Linked DNA regions of Homo sapiens. The protein of the gene in region 2 interacts with the protein of the main gene of each other region in a pairwise test. Each region holds a gene or a part of one and is shown on either strand. Other genes may lie near its edges.

Evidence for each region.
Region 1: the proteins of FAM219A (region 2) and WWC1 interact in a two-hybrid assay, tested with the Homo sapiens proteins (one large-scale study listed by IntAct).
Region 3: the proteins of FAM219A (region 2) and POLA2 interact in a two-hybrid assay, tested with the Homo sapiens proteins (one large-scale study listed by BioGRID and IntAct).
Region 4: the proteins of FAM219A (region 2) and PDE6D interact in a two-hybrid assay, tested with the Homo sapiens proteins (one large-scale study listed by BioGRID and IntAct).

The regions. Positions count from the first base shown.
Region 1 is NC_000005.10:168,430,117-168,434,644, reverse strand, and holds part of WWC1 (protein KIBRA), read right to left. Parts: intron 4,509-4,528; coding exon 4,422-4,508; intron 3,394-4,421; coding exon 3,201-3,393; intron 1-3,200. UniProt on the Homo sapiens protein: Regulator of the Hippo signaling pathway, also known as the Salvador-Warts-Hippo (SWH) pathway.
Region 2 is NC_000009.12:34,402,235-34,407,790, reverse strand, and holds part of FAM219A (protein FAM219A), read left to right. Parts: intron 1-1,826; coding exon 1,827-1,926; intron 1,927-4,983; coding exon 4,984-5,086; intron 5,087-5,323; coding exon 5,324-5,404; intron 5,405-5,556.
Region 3 is NC_000011.10:65,267,434-65,271,961, reverse strand, and holds part of POLA2 (DNA polymerase alpha subunit B), read right to left. Parts: intron 4,486-4,528; coding exon 4,394-4,485; intron 3,291-4,393; coding exon 3,233-3,290; intron 1-3,232. UniProt on the Homo sapiens protein: Accessory subunit of the DNA polymerase alpha complex (also known as the alpha DNA polymerase-primase complex) which plays an essential role in the initiation of DNA synthesis.
Region 4 is NC_000002.12:231,734,108-231,737,310, forward strand, and holds part of PDE6D (retinal rod rhodopsin-sensitive cGMP 3',5'-cyclic phosphodiesterase subunit delta), read right to left. Parts: intron 3,186-3,203; coding exon 3,080-3,185; intron 1-3,079. UniProt on the Homo sapiens protein: Promotes the release of prenylated target proteins from cellular membranes. Modulates the activity of prenylated or palmitoylated Ras family members by regulating their subcellular location.

The DNA of each region.
Region 1 (4,528 bases), on a different chromosome or scaffold from region 2:
TACACATAAGGAAGCTGGAGTCTCTGTTCAAATCCAGGCTTTGCCATTTTCTCCTTGGATGACCTGGCAGCTTACTTAGCCTTTCTGGGCCTTGATCCCTTATCTTCCTGGGGCCATCACGAAGATTAAATGAGATACTGCACATGAAGTTCTTAGCCCACTGGTAGACACATAGACTCAACTCAGTACAGATGCTGTTGCTGCCTGGCTGAAAACAGACTGGGGATTCCACACATCCTGCTGTCCGGAGTCTCTGCGTGGGAGAGGACAGGCCTTTTTCCTCCCATCTCACTTCCTCTCCTCCTCCAGCCACCAGAATACGACAGCCTGACACTCCATGTCCCCACCGTATATGGGAAAGGAGGTTTCCCATTGGCCGCAGGCAGAGACAAGCCACAGTGAGATGAGCGCTTTGGCTGCTGCCATGGCAACCAGCAATGACCAGACTTCAATTAGGAAGGAGGAATAAAAGGCATCCAATTAGGAGAAGAAAATAGGATTGAGCCTCTTCTCGCTTAGGAATGCCCAGGGCCAAGGGAATGCTTCGCTGGAGGAGCCCAGGCTTGCCAACCCCTTCAAGTCACCACCCCCATCTCTGGGCTCCAGGGAGCCCTGTGCTGGCAAAGAGACAACACAGAGGCGCTGACGTGTGTGGACTTCAGAGGGAGACCTGCTGGGGTTCAAATACGGCTTCTGCCACTTTCCTAACTGTGACAGGAAAGGTCTTTCACCTCTTTGTGCCTCAGTTTCTCCACTGGAATACGCTACCTATTTTGCAAGGTTGGAGTGAGGATCAATAGAGATAATGGGCTGGGGTGGTGGCTCACACCTGTAATCCCAGAACTTTGGGAGGTGGAGACAGGCGGATCACTTGAGGTCAGGAGTTCAAGATCAGCCTGGCCAACATGGCAAAACCCCGCCTCTACTAAAAATACAAAAATTAGCCGGGTGTGGTGGTGGGCGCTTGTAGTCCCAGCTACTCTGGAGTCTAAGGCAGGAGAATTGCTTGAATCTAGGAGGTGAAGGTTTCAGTGAGCCAAGATCACGCCACTGCACTCCAGAGACTGAGAGCAGGACTCAGTCTAAAATAAAAAAAACAGATAATGCATGTAAAGAGCTTAACTCAGTGCCTGCCATATAAACTGCAACCTACTGGTATTAACTACTGCATTATTGTCAGTAACAACATCAATAGCAGTGATGCTGTGTTGTACCCAGCTAAGAAGGAGAGATGGGAACCGATATCCAGTGAGCACAAACTGCAAACACTTTGCTGCTCTACATTCTTGCTACCCAAAGTGTGATCCAGGAACCAGCAGCATTGGCCTCACCTGGGAGCTTATTAGAAATGCAGAATCTCAGGTTCTGCTCCAGACTTGCTGAATCAGAATCTGCATTTAGCCAGAGCTCCAGGTAACTTGTGTGCATGGCACAGTTTGAAGCGCTGCTTCAGCGCCTTAGTTAGTCTTCAGAGAACCACCTCCAGGAAGGCAGTATGAGCCAGATTTTACAGATAAGGGAACTGAGACTAAGAATTGAAGACTGTGAGGAGACACAGCTGGAAGGGCAAGGCTGGTGACAGCCCCAGGCCACAATCCAAGGATGTGGCCCCACAATGCCATGATAGAGAAGGGTTTTATAGCGCATGCAGATCAAGGCAAGGATGGAGAGCAAAGAGATTCCCTTCTCTGGGCAAAGGTCTGTGATTTACAGCAGGAGAAAGGGGCGAGCCCTCCAAGAAGGCAGTGAGAGGCTCTACATTCCAGCTTCCAGAAATGGAGGCAGGAGAGGCTCGGAGAGGTGTATACATCTTGTTTTTCCCCTTTGCACATACCCCACATTTTCCTCCATCACTTCAACCCATCCATTTCCAACACGGCCCTCCTCACAGTTTGTTTACATCTTAGCCATCAATGCTGGCACCTTGTCTGTTTGGTTCCCCATTGAATCCCCAGCCCCAGACACAGGGGTGGGGACACAACAAGCTCCCAGTACAGATCTGAGCATGAGTGGAGCGACCTTCTAGGTATAATGCCCACACTTGGGCTCCTTTGTGCCCACAGTTGAGTTATCATTAAAATATTCTAACACTAAATGGCATCAGGGTTAACAAAGCCCTTTACTTCTTCTAATTCACTTGTACATCACAAGCCCGAGTTAGCTATTATATAAATCCCCCTTCTACAGATGGGAAAGCTGAGTATCTGTCTGCACTTGGGTCTGCCTGTCTCTTAGGACAAAATGTACTTGGGCTACTTCATCCCCAGTCCTGACTCCTGCCAATGCAGTGAGAGATGGAAGCCGGAGAAGGTCAGTTTCAGGGAGGAGGCTGGCAATGGCCCCACTAAACGAGAACCCACTGTGGATCAGACACTTGAATAGGTGTTTTACGGGTGCTATCTCAATCCTTATAAAGATTCTTCCAGTGGGCATGATGGAGGCATTATCATTTGCATTTTAGGGATAAGAAAAATGAGGATCAGAGATGTTAAGTACCTTGCCCAAGGTCATCCAGCTATACAGCAAGTGGTAAAGGTGGGATGTGAATGCCTATGTGTTTGCTTTCATTACTCTGTGCTTTTTTTTTTTTTTTTTTTGACACAGGGTTCTGCTGTTGCCCAGGCCAGAATGCTGCGGCATGATCAGCTCATTGCAGCTCAAGGGATCCTCCCATCTCAACCTCCAGAGTAGCTAGGACTACAAGCATGCACCACTATGCCTGGCTAATTTTATTTTTTGTAGAGATGGGGTCTTGCTGTGTTGCCCAGGCTGCTTTCGAACTCCTGCACTTGAGTGATCCTCTGGCCTTGGCCTCCCAAAGGGTTGGGATTACAGATATAAGCCACCACACAGCCATAGTCTGTGCTTCTTATCTAATCTCTCATGCTGTATAGTAAAGCTGCAGTATGTGGCTTTTTCCAGGTTCTGGCAGTTTTAAAAGGCACTTTCAGGTCCATTACTCTTCCTCTTGTGAAAGAGCTCCTTCCCTCCCACCCTAAGTCTGAGAACAACATTCACCTGTGGAAGCCTCGCTGCCTAGAATCCAAGATGAGCCTGATTGATAGCACAACCTGCGTCTCCTTCGAACCTTCTTCCTGAAGCTCAGGGTAGACCAATCCCCATAAACACAGAAGGCCGGTCAGCCAGCCAGCCAGCCAGCCAGCCAGCCAGCCAGCCAGCCAGCCAGACACGGCCCTTACCAGGCACTCTTCCAGATGGCTCCTGTCGGTGGTACAGACATCGACTCTTAAGGTCTTCTGGTGAAGGGCTGGATAGGACATGGATACCCAGAACACCTCATTGAACACTAGAGTGTCTGAGGCGTCCAGAGGCCGGGTCCGGAACAGGCAGGTTGTGCTTTCAGAGCAAGGAAGGACAGCCACGCGGATATTCCTAGAGGGAGACAGAACCGCAGGAAATCTTGGGTCAGCCCATGTCTGGGGCTAAAATGTTGGACTAAACAGCTGCTGAAATCCCTAAGCAAACAACAGTGGATGAGAGTTTGTAGAAGTGAGGAATCTGGGGAATCAGGCCCCTATACACTGGAAGGAACTTTGACAAATCGAACAAAATTCCAGATGCATTTGTCCTTTGGTCCAGACCCTTCACTTCTAGGCATTATCCCACAGATGCCCCTGCATGAGTACCAGTGAGCTATGGAGGAGGCTATTCAGCCTGGCACTGTCTGTGTGGGCAGAAGACTGAAATTGACCCAAGCATCCCATCTTGTCTTCCTTCCGTTTTGTCCGCCTTCCTGCCCTTTCTTCTTCCCACATGTGCCACCCTCACAGGCTGGCTGAGTGTAGACCACAGACACATAAGCTTCTGTTGCCACCCTCCAGGCCTTACGATCAGAGAAAACTTGGAGGCAGATGAGTGCAATAAAGGATAAACCCATCTACCATGGGAGGAGCCCACAGGCAGACAGAGCAGGTGTTTGCATCCTACCAGCATCAAGGTAACACGCAGTCACACCCCTCCAAGAGAAGCAGTGACTGGTGTTGACTCTTGGAAACAGAAGACCTATCTCTCTCTGCAAGAAACACTTGAGCTTAGGAGAAGATAAAACAGACTGTGACCATTCTTCTCCATGAGGCTCAAAGTCCAGGAGGGTAGGGCCCAGGAAGGATCTGCTCACCACCCCATTCCTAGAGCTGGCATGCAGCAGGTGCTCAGCACGTAATGGGGCAGGAATTCACACAGTCATCTAGAGAGTGCTTGTCTTTACAGTTGGTGTGCTTGCCGTTGTGCCTGTATTCACATGCACAGCACCGACATTCAGCATCACAGTCATATGCAGTACAAACCCACAGTGCCTTGACAAGGCCCATAACTGGATCAGGACAGGGCAGAAAAGTGACCCCCAGGGGTAACTCCAGAGGGTTAGGGTATGAAATACACCTGTCCAGCTACATACTCACACTTTCTGGTCTTGTTGCTGCAACAGAGCAGAAAGGTTACTCAGCTGGATGATTAATATTGCAAATTGCTTATTCTTCTCATCATACCTGAAATGAAAAGGGGCATA
Region 2 (5,556 bases):
CTGCATCCGCAAAGGCAGAACAGGCAGCAGCCTTGGATCCCCTCTGCACTCCTCGCACCTTAGGCTTAGCAATCTACAGGCCCTGGTTAAAATGCAAAGACAAGGGAAGAGGTTAATATGCAGACTGATGCTTGGGCCTGCAAGAATGGAGCAGCCTCCCAGAGGGCCTGTCTTTAACTCCAAGCCCAAATCATGTTCTCTTCCCTATGTCCCTCCCTGCATGCTTTGAAAGGTTATTGACTCCATCACTGACTTTGCGTAAGACACTTCCCCTCTCGGCCCAGGTTTCCTCATTTTTAAAAAGAATGGGTGATAAGTTGATATTTGTTGAAGCTGTTGATAGGTACCTATGATCTCACTATACTGTTTTCTCTACTTGTTATAATTTCCATAATAAAACATTTTTAAACATTTAAAATCAAAAGATTTTAACCTTTTTTAAAAAATAGAACCTTTTCTCCAACCAAAATGTTGCAACAGGCTGATATATAAATGAAATAAAGGTGAATCTACTCTTATTAAAGGGAAGCCAGACCCCCATCCTATAGCTAGGATGGCAGCACCCCTGTCAATATTTGGTCCTCAGAGTCTCAGGGAGAATGTGGATGACTTCAGCCACTTGCACGGCCCTGGATCTTGCAGCAGAGGAGGGTGTTTGGGAGGGGATGGCAAGGCTAGATAAGGACTCTTAGCAAGGTATGGTGGCTCATGCCTGTAATCCTAGCACTTTGGGAGGCTGAGGCAGGCGGATCATGAGGTCAGGAGTTCGAGACCAGCCTGGCCAATATGGTGAAACCCCGTCTCTACTAAAAATACAAAAATTAGCTGGGCCTGGTGGCGTGTACCTGTAGTCCCAGCTGCTCAAGAGGCTGAGGCAGGAGAATTGCTTGAAACCGGGAGGCGGAGGTTGCAGTAAGCCAAGATTGCACCACTGCACTCCAGCCTGGGCAACAAAGCAAGACTCCGTCTCAAAAAAAAAAAAAAAAAGACTCTGGACAACATAGTTCCCAGCCCAATTAGAGATTAGTGAAGTGAAGAGGGCAGTGAGGAGGATGTCAAAAGTTCCAGACTCAGGACAATACACAGAATGTGTGCTTTCCTATCTTCCTGACCATCTGTAGAATCAAGTATTTTGCACTCTGGGCAGCAAAAGACTAACTGGCCACCTGCTGGTTTGTCATTATTTGTCTTCTCACCTACTGTACCTAGCCAACTTTTCAGGTTCTCCCCGGAGACACTCTTTAGGTGTCATTTGTGAACTGGAGAAGTCCTCATTAGAACTATTTTTTTGTCCAGTGGCTGTAGCCTTGAAGGCTGGTGTGGCTTGGTCAGTCAGTTCTCTGGATCCTGTGAAGGGACCTGTCCAGCACAGGGAAACAGAGGGAGAAGACCCATCTCAGACAGCACCTGCTCTCCCCTTAACCCAGACTTAAACTCACAGGAACCTAGGAAGACCTTGCCAAGCAAGTACACAGGAAGGGCCTGAGGGGAAGGGCTACTAGTATGGGAGTTAGGAGAAGGAAGTCCTGTGAGTTTAAAGAAATCATGATGGGCTTTCTGGAGGAGGCTGGACCACACAGGACTTTGAGGACAGACACCAAGTTGGGTGTACATGGAACCCAGATCCTTGGTTCTTCTACCTAGCCCAGTGTTTTTGTCCCACGGTAGATGGGTCTGCCCCTCTCTCCCTGAATGCCCTGCCTGCTCTGAGGGGTGAATGCTCACAGAAGCCCAGAGGGCAGGTGGGAAGGCTAGCTTCAGGACTGAGAGCAGCCCCCTGTCTTCACTCCCTAACAACTCTCTGTCTTACTGCTTTCTCCCCACAGGACCCAGCCGCCGCCTCCATCTCTGACGGAGACTGTGACGCCCGGGAGGGTGAGTCAGTAGCCATGAATTACAAACCATCCCCGCTCCAAGTGAAGCTGGGTGAGTGTGTCTGGGGGGTGAGGGAGATGTGGGGAGTAGGCAAGATACTCTGGGCTGGGTCTACAATGAGGTGCCACAAATAAACCAGCTCAGCCTAGATGATTCCAAGACTCAAGCCTTCAAGTCATTGGCACTGCGAGGCACCTTGTCTCCTGCAGGCAAAGAGGGCAGTTACAGTTCTCTGCAGGAGCCTGAAACTCTAAGAGGCATCTCTGAAGCCAAGAACGTTCCAGGTATTCTGGGGCATAGCTGCAGGGGGAAAAGCATGGAACCCCAGAGAGAGGACTTGGAAGTCCCATCAAACACTGGATCAGGCTGAGAGGAAGCTGCCTTAGAAGTGGGATGTTACTTGTTATGTCTAAGGGATAGAAAGGAAAGAGAGTTCCAACCCTAGAAGCCGAGCCCCTCTCCCGATTACAATCTCAGCCCATCTAGAGATCTCTGGGCCCAGTTGGCACCTATCTGGGGGAGTTTTCCCTTCGTTTCTTAGAAAACCCAAATATCTCCCTTCCTTTCTGGGTCACATTTCCCTTGTGGCTTTGTCTCATGTCCATTCCAAAGTCAGTTTACTGTGCAGCCTGATCCTGTGAAGTCCCCTCGCTTCTGGCCACTGTCCACAGCTCCTACCACTATTGCCCTCCCTTCACCTCATGGGCTGTCCCTCTCCCTTCAGGGACCAAAGTTTCACTGTCTCATGGCTGCTGTATATAACACACTTTTATGAAAACTTTGGTTTCTTGAAGAGAAATTACAAAACAGGACATACAGGAAAGAATTTACAATTAAATATAGGTCATTACTATCCTTCCAAGTTCCTCTGCCATCAAGGCCACCCTCCTGTCCATCCTCCTCCTCAGGCTCCAGCTGCCCAACAATTACTGATGCCTCCTCAGTCCTAAGGGCCCTTTGCCTACAACTTTCTCCTTCCTTTCCACAGAGGCCTGTATTTTATTATTCAACTACTATTTTTTTTTCTTACCTTGCTTGCTTCTGTCCTTCCAGACCACATCCAGGGAGCCCCTCGAGCTGTTTTTCTAAACAAGAATAGTCCTCTCCTTGGAATTTGTTTCTATTCCTAGGACATCAGATTAAAACTGCAGCCAATTTTATTTATCAGGGGTGTTGGTTGTTGTTGTTGTTGTTGTTGTTGTTGTTTTGAGACAGAGTCTCTCTCTGTTGTCCAGGCTGGAGTGCAGTGGCATGATCTTGGCTCACTGCAACCTCCGCTTCCCTGGTTCAAGCGATTCTCCTGCCTCAGCCTCTCAAGTAGCTGGGATTATAGGCGCGCATCACCACGCCCAGCTAATTTTTGTATTTTTAGTAAAGATAGGCTTTCGCCATGTTGGCCAGGCTGGTCTGGAACTCCTGGTCTCAAGTGATCCGCCCACCTCGGCCTCCCAGAGTGCTGGGATTACAGGCATGAGCCACCATACCCAGCCTATTATTGTTTAATATCACAATACAAATATTTTAACAAGCATAACTTCTTTACTCTCCCCCATCACATTCTCCTCCTAAGAGGTAACCATTCCAAGCCTTTTCAGTTTTTGTAGTTTTACTTTGTATTTTAACATAAGTGGTATCATATTGTGCACATTTTCTGAAACTTGGCCTTCCCTCTTCCACCACCTAAATCTTGGAGCTCCTTCCAATGTCATCATATTGTGACTTCATTCTTTTAAATGGTTGTATAGTAGTCTTTAGTTTGGTTTTGCCAGTTTATTGTTTGCTTTTTTCCCACTATTTCAAACAATTTCAGCATGCTTTTAAAATAACATCTTTTTTTCTCCCCATTACATTACCATCAAAGCTCCTCATGAAAATTCACAGCATTGTCCCAGTTGCACCTAGTACCACCAGGAACTTTAAGGCAAATTGCACCCCCTAGAGGCCTGGAGTGGTAATGGCAGCTGCCACCTGCTGGAAAGAAGCTGGGAAAAAGCTGGAATCAGCTGAGCACTGGCAAAGAAAGAGGGTCAAAGAGTAGAAGACAGAGATTCAGAGACATGAGGTCAGGGGAAATTTCCAAGTGAGTCACAGTAGCTGTAAAGGTCCTTCCCATCCTTACCCTCTGGAGCATTTGGCTATTTTATGAGTCATTTTCCCTAGTGTCCCTCTCCACCTAACAGTTCCTTTTCCTAGATCTGGCCTTTACTTGAGATGAGTAGGGAAGAGTAGATGGGACTCCTCCAAGACCCAGGAAGCTACTTCTGGTAACAGTTGTCACATACCAGGCAGTGGACTGGGTCACCTGATGGCCAGCTCCATGAAGCTGGTAGGCTTTGGAACCTTGGAGAACTCAGACCTTGGCAAAGGAGTCAGGAGCACCACTCAGGCAGCGTAGCCAAATGGGCTCCCCCAGCCTTCTGCCCCTTACTTTGTAGCCCCATCCTGCACCTCCCACACCATAACCTTCAGTGGCTTCTTCTTCCTTCTGCGTTAATCCCAAACTCCTCTGTCTGGCATTCAAGTCCTTCATGTTCTGAGTTTGTAACCAGAGAGGGTCTTCGGCCCCTTAGCACAGGACCAGACTTATAATTAGTGACATGGATATTTGTTGAATAAGTGGCTGAATAAATGAATTTTACTTCTCTAACCTGACCTCTCTCTTCACCCCTCTATCCAGAGCCACACTTATGCTCACTTTTAAATGCATTTTTGCACACACTATCCCTCCTTCCTAGAATGTCCACCTCTCTCCAGGTCATGGTGTCACCTAAAGGAAGCCCTCTCTGACTGCGCCATCCTTCTGTGATTGTCTCTCCCCCGCCAGCCTTTCCCTGGCATCAAGTACACACTAACTACCCTAACATGGGAGTTGTGGTTCCTGAAAAACAGGGGGCAGCCTCCTCTTTTTGCCCCCCACTGTCTGCCTCAGGTTGTGCAGGGCCAGGTACTATCTCCACCAAGCAGCAGGGGCCTGGAGTTGGGATCCCTGCCTCAGTCCTTCTAGGAGCAAGTGGTTTCACAGTGGAGGCCCAGCCCAGGCTGCCCTGAGTAGTAAGACAGGGTGGCCTCAGGGGCAGGACACAGCTTCCTTCCCATGTTCTCCTGCAGAGAAGCAGCGGGAGCTGGCCCGGAAGGGCTCCCTGAAGAATGGCAGCATGGGTAGCCCTGTCAACCAGCAACCCAAGAAGAACAATGTCATGGCCCGAACAAGGTAGAGGCCCTCCCTACCCCACCTGGACCCTGCCAGCCAGGACCTATTTCTGCTGGTCCTGAGCCTCCCCCTCTTCCCTCCCTCCTCAGGCCCAGCTCCTCTCTGAGAGGAGACAGCCTTAACAGGATCCAAGGTGGGGAGGGAGGGAAGAAAGTGGTGGGACGGGGCCCAACCCAGTCCCTTGCCAGGTTTCTATGCTCCACTTTGCCACTCTAACTCCCGAAATTCTTCACCTAGGCTGGTCGTCCCCAATAAAGGCTACTCCTCACTTGACCAGAGCCCTGATGAGAAGCCACTGGTAGCCCTTGACACGGACAGGTGTGTATGGGGGCTTGGGGGTAGCTGGGCAGCCCAAAGGAACCTGTATAGCACAAGTGGGCTGTACAGGCCACACCTGCTATATTGTCAGAATTGGGATATTCTTCAGCCAGAATCTCTCCAAGGGTGAATTCTCCAGGGATGGGAATTTT
Region 3 (4,528 bases), on a different chromosome or scaffold from region 2:
TGATAAGTACTGTTCTAAGCATTTTACGTATCTCTAGCCTGGACATATTGTTTGCTCAACATTTCACTCCAACTCATTTAGCGTGGAATTCACAGTCACAAACTTTTTTTTTTTTTTTTTTTTCAGACGGAGTCTGGTTCTGTCATCCAGCCTGGAGGGCAGTGGTGTAATCTTGGCTCACTGCAACTTCCACCTCCCGGGTTCAAGCGATTCTCCTGCCTCAGCCTCCTGAGTGGCTGGGATTATAGGCACCACCACCATGCCCAGCTAATTTTTTGAGTAGAGATGGAGTTTCGCTGGTCTCGAACTCCTGACCTCAAGTGATCCACCTGCCTCAGCCTCCCGAAGTGCTGGGATTACAGGTGTGAGCCACTGCACTCGGCCTCACAGTCACAAACTTTGATTCACAATTTAGTCTCCTAAGTATTTCCATAGCAGGAATGGGGTATCCTAAATATGGGATTTCAGTCATTGGAAGGGTATCTACTTCAATAGTAAAGTAAACAAATTTGCACCTGGCTTACGCATCAGTCTACTGACAGCTGGGTTACCATGAGTCAGACTCCGGAATATGATCAATTCTGGATACACAGACAAATTACATAAAATTCTGGATCTGTGAAGCTGTTAACCAGATAAAACCGTGGTGGTCCCATTGGTATTGCAATTGAGAGAGCCAACCACACTCCCTTATTCAGAGATCTTTCAACAACTATTAACATGCCAGGGTGCTGGGAAAACAGCAGCAAGTAAAAACAAAGTCTCTATTCTCAAGGAGCTTCCATCTAATGGAGGGAAGGCCGACTAAAACAAAAAAGTAAGTATATAACATGTTTGGTGGTAATAAAGCAAGAGAATAATAAGGAGAAAAATAAAGCAAGAAAATAAAACAGAAGAAGGGCTTTGTTCTTTTAGGCAGGCTTGTTCCCTGACAAGGAGACATAGGAAATGAACCCATATTTGGCACGGCAGAAGCAGAGAGCAAAGGGGAGCAGGGAAAGAGGACAGAAGGAGGAGGGGGCCAGCTCCTACAGAACTTCACATATGCTGGTTCAAACTTTGCATATCAGGAGGAAAGACGAAAAGCCAGTGGGAGAGATGTGAGCAAGAAAACCTGACCTTTTGCTGGAAAGGAGCACTCTGGCTGCTGGGTGGAGAGGTGGTTAGAGGTGGATATGGCAGAAAGAAGCCAATGGACTAGTTAGGAGGCTGTCCCAATCATTCAGGAGACAATGATGCTGTGGACCTGGTGGTAGCAGTGGAAATGGTGAGAGGTGGCCAGATCCTGGAGAGGGATGACAGGACTGGTAGCTAAGTTGGATGTGGGGTGTGAGAGAAAAAGGATTTAAGGAGGTCTCCAAGGTTCTTGGCCTGAGTCAATGGAAGAACGGAGGTGTCCTTCACTGGGATATGGACTCAGAAAACCACTTTAGGAGGAAAATCAAATGAGTTATAGTCTCTCCAATTTTAAGAAACTCTAACAAACACCTAATTATTTCTTTTAATATTATATGCACCTGGTTTTGTGTTAGCAACTTCATGGGGCACATTTTTGGCCCTCTTACTCTCCACAGGCATATCTAAACTATTTACCTTCTTTCTTCCTGAGACAGGGTCTCACTTTGTCATCCAGGCTGTAGAGCAGCGGCATGATCTCTGGTCACTGATCCTCCTGCCTTGGTCTCCCGGAGTGCTGGGATTACAGGCATGAGCCACTGCACCCAGCCCTTACCTTCTTTCTTATGATGTAATTTACTTTGAATAATTAAGGCTCCCTCCATGTTTATGAATTTCTACAAATTTATTTAGTTAGTATAAAGAATAATTACTGGGCTGGGCACGGTGGCTCACATCTGTAATCCCAGCACTTTGGAGGCCGAGGCAGGTGGATCACCGCAGGTGAGGAGTACGAGACCAGCCTGGCTGACATGGTGAAACCCCGTCTCTACTAAAAATACAAAAATTAGCTGGCCGTAGTGGCGCATGCCTGTAATCCCAGCTACTCAGGAGGCTGAGGCAGAATTGCTTGAACCCGGGAGGCGGAGGTTGCAGTGACCCGAGATCGTGCCATTGCACTCCAGCCTGGGCAACAAGAGGAAAACTCCATCTCAAAACAACAACAACAACAACAAAAAAGAATAATTACTATTACTGAATACATTGCATAGGGCAATGTAAATTACCTCTTTCTTATGATGTAGTTTACTTTGAATAATTAAGGCTCACTCCATGTTTATGAATGTCTACAAACTTATTTAGTTAGTATAAAGAATAGTTACCATTACTGAATACATTGCATAGGGCCTGATACTTTACCTATTTATTTCCTCTTCAAGCCCTCCAAGATGGGGGATATTGTGCACTGGCTGTCAGCTTCTTGAGGGCAGAGCCCATCCATGTCTGTTTCATTCACCATTGTTTACTCAATGTCTAGTGCAGTACATAGTTGTTGTTGTTGTTTTTTTTTTTTTTTTTGAGACGGAGTCTCGCTCTGTCGCCCAGGCTGGAGTGCAGTAGCGCGATCTCGGCTCACTGCAAGCTCTGCCTCCCAGGTTCCCGCCATTCTCCTGCCTCAGCCTCCCAAGTAGCTGGGACTACAGGCGCCCACCACCACGCCCGGCTAATTTCTTTTTTTGTATTTATGGTAGAGACAGAGTTTCACCATGTTAACCAGGATGGTCTCGATCTCCTGACCTCGTGATCCGCCTGCCTCAGCCTCCCAAAGTGCTGGGATTACAGGCATGAGCCACTGCGCCTGGCCACATAGTTGTTGCTGGATAACTGAATGAATGAATCCTGATATTATGGATAAGGAAACTGTCTCAGAGAGATAAAACAACTCACTCCAGGTCACCTAGGTCTTCTGACTCAGACTTTGAAGGCAATGCTTTTCCACTACCCTACTTGACCTTTCACACTGGGATCCAACACAGAACTGAATTATTCAATTATAGTATAAAACTATGAAACTATTCAAAAAGGGCAATTATGGAGAAATTATGTTTATAGAAATGTTTTATGTTGTGCTGAGAAAAGCAGGATAACTATATGTTTATAAGGACTGCCATTATGTAAAACATTTAGACATATGATCAGAAAGGAAGATGTATAAGTGGAAATATAGTAGGAAATGCATGAGAGTGGTTGATTTTTTCCCTCAGATCTTCAAATGTTGTGAAACTATTTTAAAATGTTACTTGTAAAATGCAATGTCCAAACACTGTTTACTTACCTTTGAAGGTGTGGTGTAAGAGTTCAAGAGGATTTCCTCTTCTTCTTCCACTTCAATTCTAAGAACACTGGTTAAGAAAAACAATAATGGCTGGGCACGGTAGCTCATGCCTGTAATCCCAGCACTTTGGGAGGCCGAGATGGGCGGATCACGAGATCAGGAGACAGAGACCATCCTGGCTAACACAGTGAAACCCCGTCTCTACTAAAAAAAATACAAAAAATTAGCCGGGCGCCTGTAGTCCCAGCTACTCGGGAGGCTGAGGCAGGAGAATGGCATGAACCCAGGAGACGGAGCTTGCAGTGAGCTGAGATCACACCACTGCACTCCAGCATGGGCGACACAGCGAGACTCCATCTCAAAAAAAAAAAATAATAATAATAATAATAAACTTTCATATAAGGCAAGGGCTGATTGCTAGAAGAAATCTCAATATTAGGCAATTTTTACTATTATTATTATTGAGATGGGGTTTCCTCGTCGTCCAGGATGGAGTGCAGTGGCCTGATCTCAGATTACTGCAACTTCCACATCCCAGGTTCAAGAGATTTTCTCACCTCAGCCTACCAACTAGCTGGATCTACAGGCGTACATCACCACACCCAGCTTATTATTATTATTTTTTAATTTGTACTTTGGCCGGGCACGGTGACTCACGCCTGTAATCCCAGGACTTTGGGAGGCCTAGGCAGGCGGATCACCTGAGGTCAGGAGTTCGAGACCAGCTGGCCAACATGGTGAAACCCTGTCTCTACCAAAAAAAATACAAAATTATCCAGGTGTGGTGGTGTGCACCTGTAATCCCAGCTACTCAGGAGGCTGAGGCAGGAGAATCACTTGAGATTGGGAGGCAGAGGTTGCAGTGAGCTGAGATTGCACCATTGCACTTCAGCCTGGGCAAAAAGAGCGAAACTCCAACTCAAAAAAAAAAAAAAATTTGTACTTTTGATAGAGACAGGGTTTCACCATGTTGCCCAGGTTGGTCACAAATTCCTGGGCTCAAGTGATCTGCTTGCCTCGGCCTCCAAAAGTGCTGGGATTACAGGCCTGAGCCACCGTGCCCGGCCTTATTATTTGTTTTTAAATTACACATGCGACTACAGACAAATTATAAAATACAACATGTAGCTTGGTGCAAAGACCTTCAGCAGAAAAGGATACAGCTCTTGAATGGAAACAATGTCTCTAGCTCCTGCATGGCCACTGTCCTTGCAGGTACTATGCCTGGCTTTCGATAATCTTTTGCTCAGAAACTGAAAAAGAAAAGATAGTGAATACAGTACTTCATAGTCAAGT
Region 4 (3,203 bases), on a different chromosome or scaffold from region 2:
GGAGGCTGAGGCAGGAGAATGGTGGGAACCCGGGAGGCGGAGCTTGCAGTGAGCCGAGATCACGCCACTGCACTCCAGCCTCCGCGACAGAGCGAGACTCTGTCTCAAAAAAAATAAAAAAAAATAAAAAATAAAAAGTTAAGTATAGTTGGTTCCCTACTTATAATGAATCAACTTATGATCTTTCAACTTTATAGTGGATTTATGGGGATATTAAATGCATTTTTGACTTATGATATTTTCATCTTATGATAGGTTTGAGACAGAGCGAGACCGTCTCAAAAAAAAACAGCAACAAAAAATCACGCCTCGTGAAGAAGAAGTCAAATGAAGTTTAATAAAATCTAAAAAAAAAAAACCCCTGCTTTCCTAAACTACTCTGTACTTTCCCAGGGTAATTAATAACCAGCAGATACATTTCTGCTGGTAATTAATTATAAAACAGGTAAATAGGCCGGGCATGGTGGCTCATGCCTGTAATCCCAGCACTTTGGGAGGCTGAGGCGGGCAGATCATGAGGTCAGGAGATCGAGACCATCCTGGCTAACATGGTGAAACCCCGTCTGTACTAAAAATATAAAAAAAAAAAAATAGCCGGGCGTGGTGGCGGGTGCCTGTAGTCTCAGCTACTCAGGAGGCTGAGGCAGGAGAATGGCGTGAACCTGGGAGGCGGAGGTTGCAGTGAGCTGGGATCATGCTACTGCACTCCAGCCTGGGCGACAGAGCGAGACTCCGTCTCAAAAAAAAAAACAAAAAAAAAAACCCCAAAAAACAGGTAAATAAGGTACTCAGAATCTGACTGGCTGATAAGATATAAAAATAGCTACTACTGTAATTAAAAAATCTACTTTTAGGCCAGGCACGGTGGCTCACGTCTGTAATCCCAGCACTTTGGGAGGCCGAGGCGGGCGGATCACGAGGTCAGGAGATCGAGACCATCCTGGCTAACATGGTGAAACCCCGTCTCTACTAAAAATACGAAAAATTAGCTGGGCGTGGTGGCGGGTGCCTGTAGTCCCAGCTACTCGGAAGGCTGAGGCAGGAGAAAGATGGGAACCTGGGAGGTGGAGCTTGCAGTGAGCCGAGATCTTGCCACTGCACTCCAGCCTGGGCAACAGAGCGAGACTCCATATCAAAAAAAAAAAAAAAAAATCTACTTTTAAAACTATTAAAACTTTAAAAAATTCTATTACAATTTTTTTTTTTTTTTGAGGTGGAGTCTCGCCCTGTCACCCAGGGTGGAGTGCAGAGGCGTGATCTCGGCTCACTGCAACCTCCGGCACCCAGATTCAAGTGATCTCCTGCCTCAGCCTCCCGAGTAGCTGGGACTACAAGCGTGTGCCGCCATGCCCAGCTGATTTTTTGTATTTTTAGTAGAGATGGGGTTTCACTGTGTTAGCCAAGATGGTCTCGATTTCCTGACCTCGTGATCCACCCGACTTGGCTTCCCAAAGTGCTGGGATTACAGGTGTGAGCCACTGCGCCCAGCCTCTTACAAAATCTATGTTGCCCAAGCTAGTCTCAAACTCTTGGACTCAAGCAATCCTCCCGCCTCAGCTTCCCAAGTAGCTAGGATTATAGGAAAGTGTCACCACACCTGGCTGTTAAAAAAACTATTAAAAACTTTAAAAAGGGGCTGGGCACGGTGGCTCATGCCTGTAATCCCAGCACTTTGGGAGGTTGAGGCGGGTGGATCACCCGAGGTTAGGAGTTCGAGACCAGCTTGACCAATATGGTGAAACCCTGTCTCTACTAAAAATACAAAAAAAAAATTAACCGGTGTGGTGGTGTATGCCTGTAATCCCAGCTACTTGGGAGGCTGAGACAGGAGAGTTGCTTGAACCTGGGAGGCGGAGCTGGCAGTGAGCTGAGATCACGCCACTGCACTCCAGCCTGGGTGACAGGGCGAGACTCTGTCTCAAAAAAAAAAAAAAAAACTTAAAAAGTAGAGACAGGCATGGTGGCACATGCCTGTAGTCTCACCTACTTAGGAGGCTGAGCTAGGAAGATCACTTGAGCCCAGGAGTTGGAGTCCAGCCTGGGCAACATGGCAAGACCCTGTTTTTTAAAAAAATAAAATAAACAAAACCCAAAACAAAAACAAAAAACCTTAAAGTCAATAACCTCAATTTTTAACAAATTCAATATGGCTTTCATAAAGGAACTGTTGAAAGAGATGATCCAATATTACACAATTATCTGTGGGACTAACTCTTTTTTTTTTGAAATAGAGTCTTGGTCTGCTACCCAGGCTGGAATGCAGTGACATGATCTTGGCTCATTGTAACCTCCACCTCCTGGGTTCAAGCAATTCTCCTATCTCAGCTTCTTGAGTAGCTGGGATTACAGGTGTGTGCCATTACGCCCAGCTAACTCTTTAGAAGGTACTATTACTATAACATTTGAGAGACTAACATCTTTCCCACAGACAATGGGAGGTAGGAAGTTATTGACAGTGTTTTTGGAAAAAGCACAAACAAATTGTTCTTGGAACAGGAACCAAAGCTATTAATATGGTAAGCCATTCTCCAAAAAACTGTAACCAAGTAGTATCCTCGAAAACAGAATTATTAATAGGACTTTGCCAGATTCTGTTAAAGGTGATCTAAACAAAATACAGAGATACCGGAAGTACGGTAGTCAGGAATGGGAGCAAATTAACATAGATTCGGTATATATATTAAATGCCAGTCTCCTTCCATGTCATCACATTTTATCTTCATTACACCTCTGTAAGACAGAATTAATTTCTGTGTTTAGAGATGAAAGACTAAGGCTCAGAGAGATAAAGTATATTAGTGCCCAAGATGACACAGGTAGTCAGGGTGAATCAGGAATTTAAATCTGGTTTAATCTAAAGTTTTATTTTTATTTTTAGTTTTTTATTCTTTCTACTCTATCATACTGTCTTTTTCATATGAAAAAGGTCAGGAACCTGGAAACCTAGATACCCTTGGATACTCTTTTACTCTATTTCTCAACCGAGCTCTCTGCCCACTGAATGGCACCAGGAGTCCCACCTGCCTGGAATGCCTGTTTCTAGACACACTTCATAATTTCCTGAGACCTGCTCACTCACGTTAAGACGCTTGCTGGCATCATCTGGGACTCGGGTGCTGCCTCTATCAAGGACTGCCAGGTATTTGTGGAGTTAGGGATCACAAAGCCAAACTCGAAGAACCATTCTGAAGGAAGAAGGAAAA